2 linked regions of the Homo sapiens genome follow. The protein of the gene in region 1 purifies or fractionates together with the protein of each later gene. This does not show direct contact. Each region holds a gene or a part of one and is shown in the gene's direction. Other genes may lie near its edges.

Evidence for each region.
Region 2: the proteins of CAMTA2 (region 1) and PSME3IP1 purify together in Homo sapiens (affinity purification with mass spectrometry; 3 studies listed by BioGRID and IntAct, with this or other methods). This does not show direct contact.

Annotation. Positions count from the first base shown.
Region 1 is NC_000017.11:4,967,266-4,970,960, reverse strand, and holds the end of CAMTA2 (calmodulin-binding transcription activator 2), read left to right. Parts: intron 1-424; coding exon 425-621; intron 622-810; exon of another isoform or gene 811-875; coding exon 876-1,059; intron 1,060-1,189; exon of another isoform or gene 1,190-1,259; coding exon 1,260-1,331; intron 1,332-1,440; coding exon 1,441-1,461; intron 1,462-1,623; coding exon 1,624-1,811; intron 1,812-1,979; coding exon 1,980-2,054; intron 2,055-2,141; coding exon 2,142-2,205; coding exon of another isoform or gene 2,206-2,255; 3' UTR 2,256-2,964; downstream 2,965-3,695. Other genes in the region: SPAG7 (sperm-associated antigen 7), read left to right, coding at 3,157-3,241. UniProt on the Homo sapiens protein: Transcription activator. May act as tumor suppressor.
Region 2 is NC_000016.10:57,151,966-57,155,039, reverse strand, and holds the end of PSME3IP1 (PSME3-interacting protein), read left to right. Parts: intron 1-532; coding exon 533-750; 3' UTR 751-2,574; downstream 2,575-3,074. UniProt on the Homo sapiens protein: Promotes the association of the proteasome activator complex subunit PSME3 with the 20S proteasome and regulates its activity.

The DNA of each region.
Region 1 (3,695 bases):
ACTGGAGCCATTCATCCGGGTAGTAGTTGGCAAGTGTTGGAATGGTTCTTGGAGAGTTGAAAGGGAGCTGGGGGTGGGCACAGCCAAGCCTATGGGGAGCATGTGCTGGTCAGCTGGCATGGGGCAGGCCCAGGTAGGACAGTGGATGGTTGGCCTGAAAGGGTGTCAAGTCCTCCATTTGTTCAGCTTTGAATCCCCACTTGGAGTATCTCCTTTTTATCCTATATTCTCCATAGCATCTCAGCACAGAGGGACCCCCAAGTGGGAGCCCCATCAGTATAAATGAATGAGTCTGGAACAGTGGCCCAGAAAGACAGGGTTAGCAGCACCTGGCAGGGAGAGAAGGAACAAGATAGGAATGGACTGAGGTTACAGCTGGCAGCTGGGGCCCCTAAGGACTCACTCAGCTTCTCCCTTCTTCCAGGTGGACATGATCTCACTAGCCAAGCAGATCATCGAAGCCACACCGGAGCGGATTAAACGAGAGGACTTCGTGGGGCTGCCCGAGGCTGGAGCCTCAATGCGGGAGCGGACAGGGGCTGTGGGGCTCAGTGAGACCATGTCCTGGCTGGCCAGCTACCTGGAGAATGTGGACCATTTCCCCAGCTCAACCCCTCCCAGGTGACTAGCTCAGGACAAAGCCTCCAGATTCTTCAAAGGAAGATGGGAGGAAGGGAGAAAGCTGGCTTTCCCACAGCCAAAGCTCCATTCTGGCTGAGGCCCCAGGGCCTTGGAGAAGCGAACTGAACTGGCTGATGAACTCTGAAGTCACTCTCCAGACTCAGTTGCTGGTGGTTTTCCTTCGTAGCCATCCATAGGTGGCAGAGGAGGGACTTCAGATGCTTCATGACACCCTCTTTCCCTACCGCCTACAGCGAACTGCCCTTTGAGCGAGGTCGCCTGGCTGTCCCTTCAGCACCCTCCTGGGCAGAGTTTCTCTCTGCATCCACCAGTGGCAAGATGGAAAGTGATTTTGCCCTGCTGACACTATCAGATCACGAGCAGCGGGAACTGTATGAGGCTGCCCGAGTCATCCAGACGGCCTTCCGAAAGTACAAGGTCAGGGGCAGGGGTCTCAGGATGAATTACACAATCTCCAGTCAGGGGAGACTGGGCTCCCAGGGCTTTTGGAGGATGAGTAGTCGTGCAGACAGGCCTTGGATGGGGTAAAGGGTCAGGGGAACCCCAGGAAAGTTGAAGGGACAAGTCAGATATGCCATTATGTGGGTCATGAGGTGGTGAGACTTCTCTCCCTTCAGGGCCGGCGGCTGAAGGAGCAGCAGGAGGTAGCAGCAGCTGTAATCCAGCGCTGTTACCGGAAGTACAAGCAGGTGAGACCCTTCTCCCTCAAAAGTGTAACCAGCAACCCACCAACCCACACCCACGCCTAACCATTCCAGAATGTTGCCAGAGCCCTAACTCCCCTTCTCTCTCCACAAGCTGACCTGGATTGCACTTAAGGTATTAGGCATGAGCTCTGAGTGTGAGGTCTGTGATGATTCAGTCTTTCCTTGAGTGTGTGGGTTACAGAGAGTCTTGCATCAGCCTAACTTGGGTGAGCCTCAGGGCTTTGGGTCTCCGTCCCTCTATTTCAGCCCCTGTCCCTCCTCCCCACCCCTGCAGTTTGCACTCTATAAGAAGATGACCCAGGCGGCCATCCTGATCCAGAGCAAGTTCCGAAGCTACTATGAACAGAAGCGATTTCAGCAGAGCCGCCGAGCGGCTGTGCTCATCCAGCAGCACTACCGCTCCTACCGCCGCAGGCCCGGCCCTCCCCACCGGACTTCGGCCACCCTGCCTGCCCGCAACAAGTAGGGCCCAGCCCCAGCCCTCTGTGCCCACCCACTGCATCCACGCCATTCCCCCTTACTCATCCTCTTGATCATCATGCCTCACTGCCATTCCCTGCCTAGGGTTCCTGGGGGGGCCGAAGGCATGCGATGCCTTCTGTGAGGTCCATCTTTTGTTTCTTTCACCAGAGGCTCCTTTCTCACCAAGAAGCAGGACCAGGCAGCCCGGAAGATCATGAGATTCCTGCGGCGCTGCCGACACAGGTACTCATCCCTTCTCCCCCTGGGCTTTTGCGTTGCCACCCGTCGTGATCCGCCAGTCTCCTCTGACTCCTATCTTTCTCTCTGCAGGATGAGGGAACTGAAGCAGAACCAGGAGCTGGAAGGGCTTCCCCAGCCGGGACTGGCCACATGACCTGGCCACCGCCTTTCTCACCACCCTGGGGGCGCCTCGTGCAGTCTTAACAGGGAGAGGGCTTTCTGGGGCAGGGGGAGCCCCTGTCGGCAGCTTTCCTGTTCACCTTTGTTGGAGCCCTCTGTAGGCCTCCTCCCTCCTCCCCACGCCTTGCTCCCACACCCCTCTCCTCGTCCCTCCTGGTCGTGCCCCGTCTCTTTTGGTCCTGGCTCCAGAAAACCCGCGCCCCACATACCTGCATCTTCCGCTGTGACCTCCGGAGCCCTGCCTGCCCCTGCTCCCCAGCTCCTCCTGCCTGCACCCGACTCGGCCCCCTCCTGACTTGCCTTATTTATTTGTTCGACGCGTCTCTGAATGTATCCGCCTCGGTTCCCACCACTGCCTTCGCTGCGCACGCCCCTCGTGTTTCAGGGCTGACCGTGTCCCCACCCGACTCCGCATGTTTGCGTCTGTTTCCTCCCTCTCTGGCCCTGTCTTACCCCATCACCCGACTCTGGCCACTGACCTCAGGGCCGAAGGGGAGGTGGTGTACATAGGAACGCGTTGCGGAGTCCGCCCCGTCCCCCGAGGGGAGGGGTCTTGTACATACTGTAACATACAGAGTATAGTGAAGAATCTATTTAAGGCGCCGCGGGGAGGGCTGCACGGCCGGGCTTGTGGTTCTCTAGCGCGGCGGGGGCCTCCTGCCGGCTCCACGGGCACTTTCTACTTGTGCATGGGCTTGGTTTATACGAATTGCCATTAAACATCGCTGCACCAGCCAGCCTCCGGCCTCTGTCTGCGGGGGCGGGGCGGGGCCTAGGCCAGCTGGAGGCCGCCATGCACCGCGGGCCTGGGATCTGCGCCCAGGCCAGGCGGGCCCAGGGTTTTCCGCCTCCGACGTGTTTCCGGCCTTAAAGGCATTCCGCCCTTCCCTTTAAGACGCACCGCCCCCTCTCAGTCACTCCCAAGATGGCGGACCTACTGGGCTCCATCCTGAGCTCCATGGAGAAGCCACCCAGCCTCGGTGACCAGGAGACTCGGCGCAAGGCCCGAGGTGAGGATCCCAAATTCACAACCGCCTTCCTTCGCCCGGTTCTCGGGACCATACTTCTCCCTCTTTGGACGATGCCGCCTCCTCAACCTTGAAAGACCCCTCACAGGCCCCTTCCGAGACCCTCAGAGTCCCTAAAAGGGCTGCTGACACGCCCGCTGTTCTTAGCGGACAGTGATTGGCTACCTGAAAGATAGCGCCAGCCTCCTGCCTCTTCTCCCGACCCTGGCCTTCCGCAGTCCTTGTTTCCCATTAGCCGGCCGTCCCGCCTGTCCGCTGCTGACCTGGTCTGATTGGTAGGGTGCCTCCAACCTGCCGCATTCCTGCCCCGCTCACCTCTAGCTCTATTTCGATTGGATTTAGGACACGCCATCTACTGTGCCTTCATCTCTATTGGCTATCTCAACTTAAAGCTCTGCCTCCTCAGGCCTGTTCGACCTTCCTTCGAAACCACCCC
Region 2 (3,074 bases), on another chromosome or scaffold:
AAATGTTTAAAAAGAAAAGAATGTTATTTTGTAGCTGATGTTTGGCCTTAAAATTGTATCTGTGCTAGCTGGCTTATTGGTCAGTAAATAAGAAATGGTGTAATACGCTGAGAACTTAATGGAATTGTTAATATTGCTCACAGTGTCTCTCTTAATCTGTTTTCAGATTCTCACGGCTGTGTGAGCACAGGGAAATCAAAGCACTCTAGGCTACACTCCAGAGTAGCTTGTTCTCCAACTCGGATTTGATGGGGAACAAGAGAGTGTAGTCAGGCTCTGGGGTTAAAAAGACCTTGATTCAAGTCTCAGCTCTGCCCCTTTACTTTCAGAAGTCCTTTCACCTCCTGGAGCCTCCCTTCCTCCTTCAGTTTCCCCATCTCTAAAACGAGGGTGATGATAGTATTGGCTGCATAGCATTGTTCTAAGGCTCCTCTGTGGGAAAATCCCTTGGTACAGTGCCTGGCACATGGTAAGTCAGTCCCCAACTTTGGAAAAGGGTGATGAAGTGACAGTCTTTCCCCTTTTATTGCAGAGCCCTCATCCTGCAAGTCTCTCGGAAACACCTCCCTGAGTGGCCCCTCCATCCACTGCCCCTCTGCTGCAGTATGTATCGGCATCCTCCCAGGCCTGGGTGCCTACTCTGGGAGCAGCGACTCCGAGTCCAGCTCAGACAGCGAAGGCACCATCAATGCCACCGGAAAGATTGTCTCCTCCATCTTCCGAACCAACACCTTCCTCGAGGCCCCCTAGTTTCTCCGTCCCTACACAGGGAGCTCCTCCCCAAGGGTAGATCGGACCGTTCATGCTGCCTATAGGCATTATGTCCCTCAAAAAAAAACTCCTTTGCCTGCATCCTGTGTACAACATGACATTTTTAACCAATCCAATCTAAAAATGTGCCAGAATCCACCTGTGGCCCGAATCGTGTTTGGTTCCTCTTTCTACTCCACTGCAGATGACCAAACCTGTCCCGCTGCCACTTTCCTCACTGATATTGGGAGGAGGGCAAGGCCCAGCCGAAGTTCCACTAAAAATGCCCCAGGAGAATAGGCACCGGCTGGCTTGCCAAAGGGTTTGGGTTTTATTGCTTTCTGTTTTTTCTTTTCCCGACAGCACAAAGAAGTAAGGGCAGTTATTGGACAGGTGTTATTTAAACATTCTATTGTAAATGAATGTGTTGTTTGGTTCTACTGCATTGTGGAGCATGCGGGGGAAGAGAACTGACCCAGGTAGTGAAATGGAGCCCTTCCCTGGAACTAACCAGTCCTTGATGTTGTGTGACTAAGTAAAGATGATAAACCCCATCTGCTGGGGGTGTCACTTCACACTCGGCATGCATTGTGAAAGCTTTCCATACCCTTGGCCATTCCCTCTCTCCTCTCTCTCCAACCCCATTTATGCAGGAAGGGACTGCTAACAAGAACGCTTCCATCTCAAACCTTTTCTCTGCCTGGGAAATTATTTTATGTTTGTTTTTGAAATAAAGGATTTAGTTTAAGATTCTAAATTTTAGAGAAACAAACGTAGGCCTTGTTTACTAATAGCCAGACATCAGAACTGCAGGTAGGTATGTTAATGAGATGACTTATTTCTGGCAGCTCCTGGAATCCTAATATTGTAAATGAGTGGGACACACTTGCATATTGTGACCATTCTATTGAGGCCCTTCTCTGTTTAATGCATATTATACTTGTGCTTTTAACTGTGGAATCTATTTCTAACCTAAAGGTGCTGCCCTAGTACTTTTCTTTGCTGCCTCTGCTGCTCTTTTTCCTTTCCAAACAGCAACTCTGAGGCCATGAGCAGCCAAAAACTAGAGGTACTGCTCCACCTCGTCTCATAAAGGGAAACGGGCTCATCCCTTGGATTCTGGAGGAGGGAGAGGGAGATGGTGTGGAGGCCTCGAGGACAGAGATAGACATGAGCTTTGACAACAATCTGTAGGCTCTCCTGCTTTAGAATAAGCATGTACCATTCTTTATCCATTCCCCTTATTCCTACATCAATTGTTTTTACTTTCTTGGGTGTGAGACTGAGTGAGACACACACAAAATGTGTTGACACTGTGATGCCGGCAGGCAGAGCAGCTACTGACTTTGAACATGGGCAGAGAGGCCCCTGGATCTCATCCAGCCCACTCCTTTTCCCCTTCCAGTACAGTGACACTCTGGTGCCCATTGGCAGATGGCGACTTCCCTGCACCCATAACTGATGCTTTGTGAATTCTTCCTCCTTTTCAGAACTACTCTGTGCTAATTGTTCTGCCAGTATGGGCGCATCAGCTCCATCCTGACAAACAAGACATTTAGGTAAAACTTTGTAGGCACCTTCTGCTTCTCTGCTTCATTGTTCCTGTGATAGTCCTGTTGTTATTACAGCATGTACCCAAAACAGCCTCACATTGTTACAGGAGGCAGGCCAGGACATCAAAGTCATCATCTTTATGTGGCATGACTCTTAAGAGGCCATTACTGTATCTCATGGCCTCTTGATGTGGAAAGAAGTTGACAGAGGGTTGCAGGGTTTAAAAACATCCATTAACATGAAAGCTAATAAACCTGTCAGAGAACAAGATCTTGTTTTTCCTCTACTGAATATTGTGCTTCCACCTCTCCCCATGTCTCTCAGCTAGATTGTGTTGAGAAGGTTGAGTGAGACTCTTCAGACTGTGACTTACCTTCTGGTGTCTCAGGAGAGACTGAGAATCACTGGTGATCATTGCATCATATTCCATTGTCCCCATCAGCACAGAGCTCTGGAACTGAAACAGAGCTTCTGTAGCAACCACAGCTAACAAAGCAGCGTCTGATCTGACCAACAGAGGAAGCAGCCTTGGAAAGTATCTAGTGTAGACCTTGAAGTTCAAACCCAAAGGAGAATAGAATAAACAGGGCTGGAAGGAAACACTGCTTTAAACTGTAAAGTGTAGTACTCCTGCCTTAATAATTGGGATTTTATGGTAATTACGGGACAAAAACAAAGTTTGGCATGGGTTTCTTTAAGCTCGCTTACTTTGTTCTGAGTGGTAGGATTCTTACAATTCTCCAGCCATGTGAGGGAGAAAGCTAATAGGA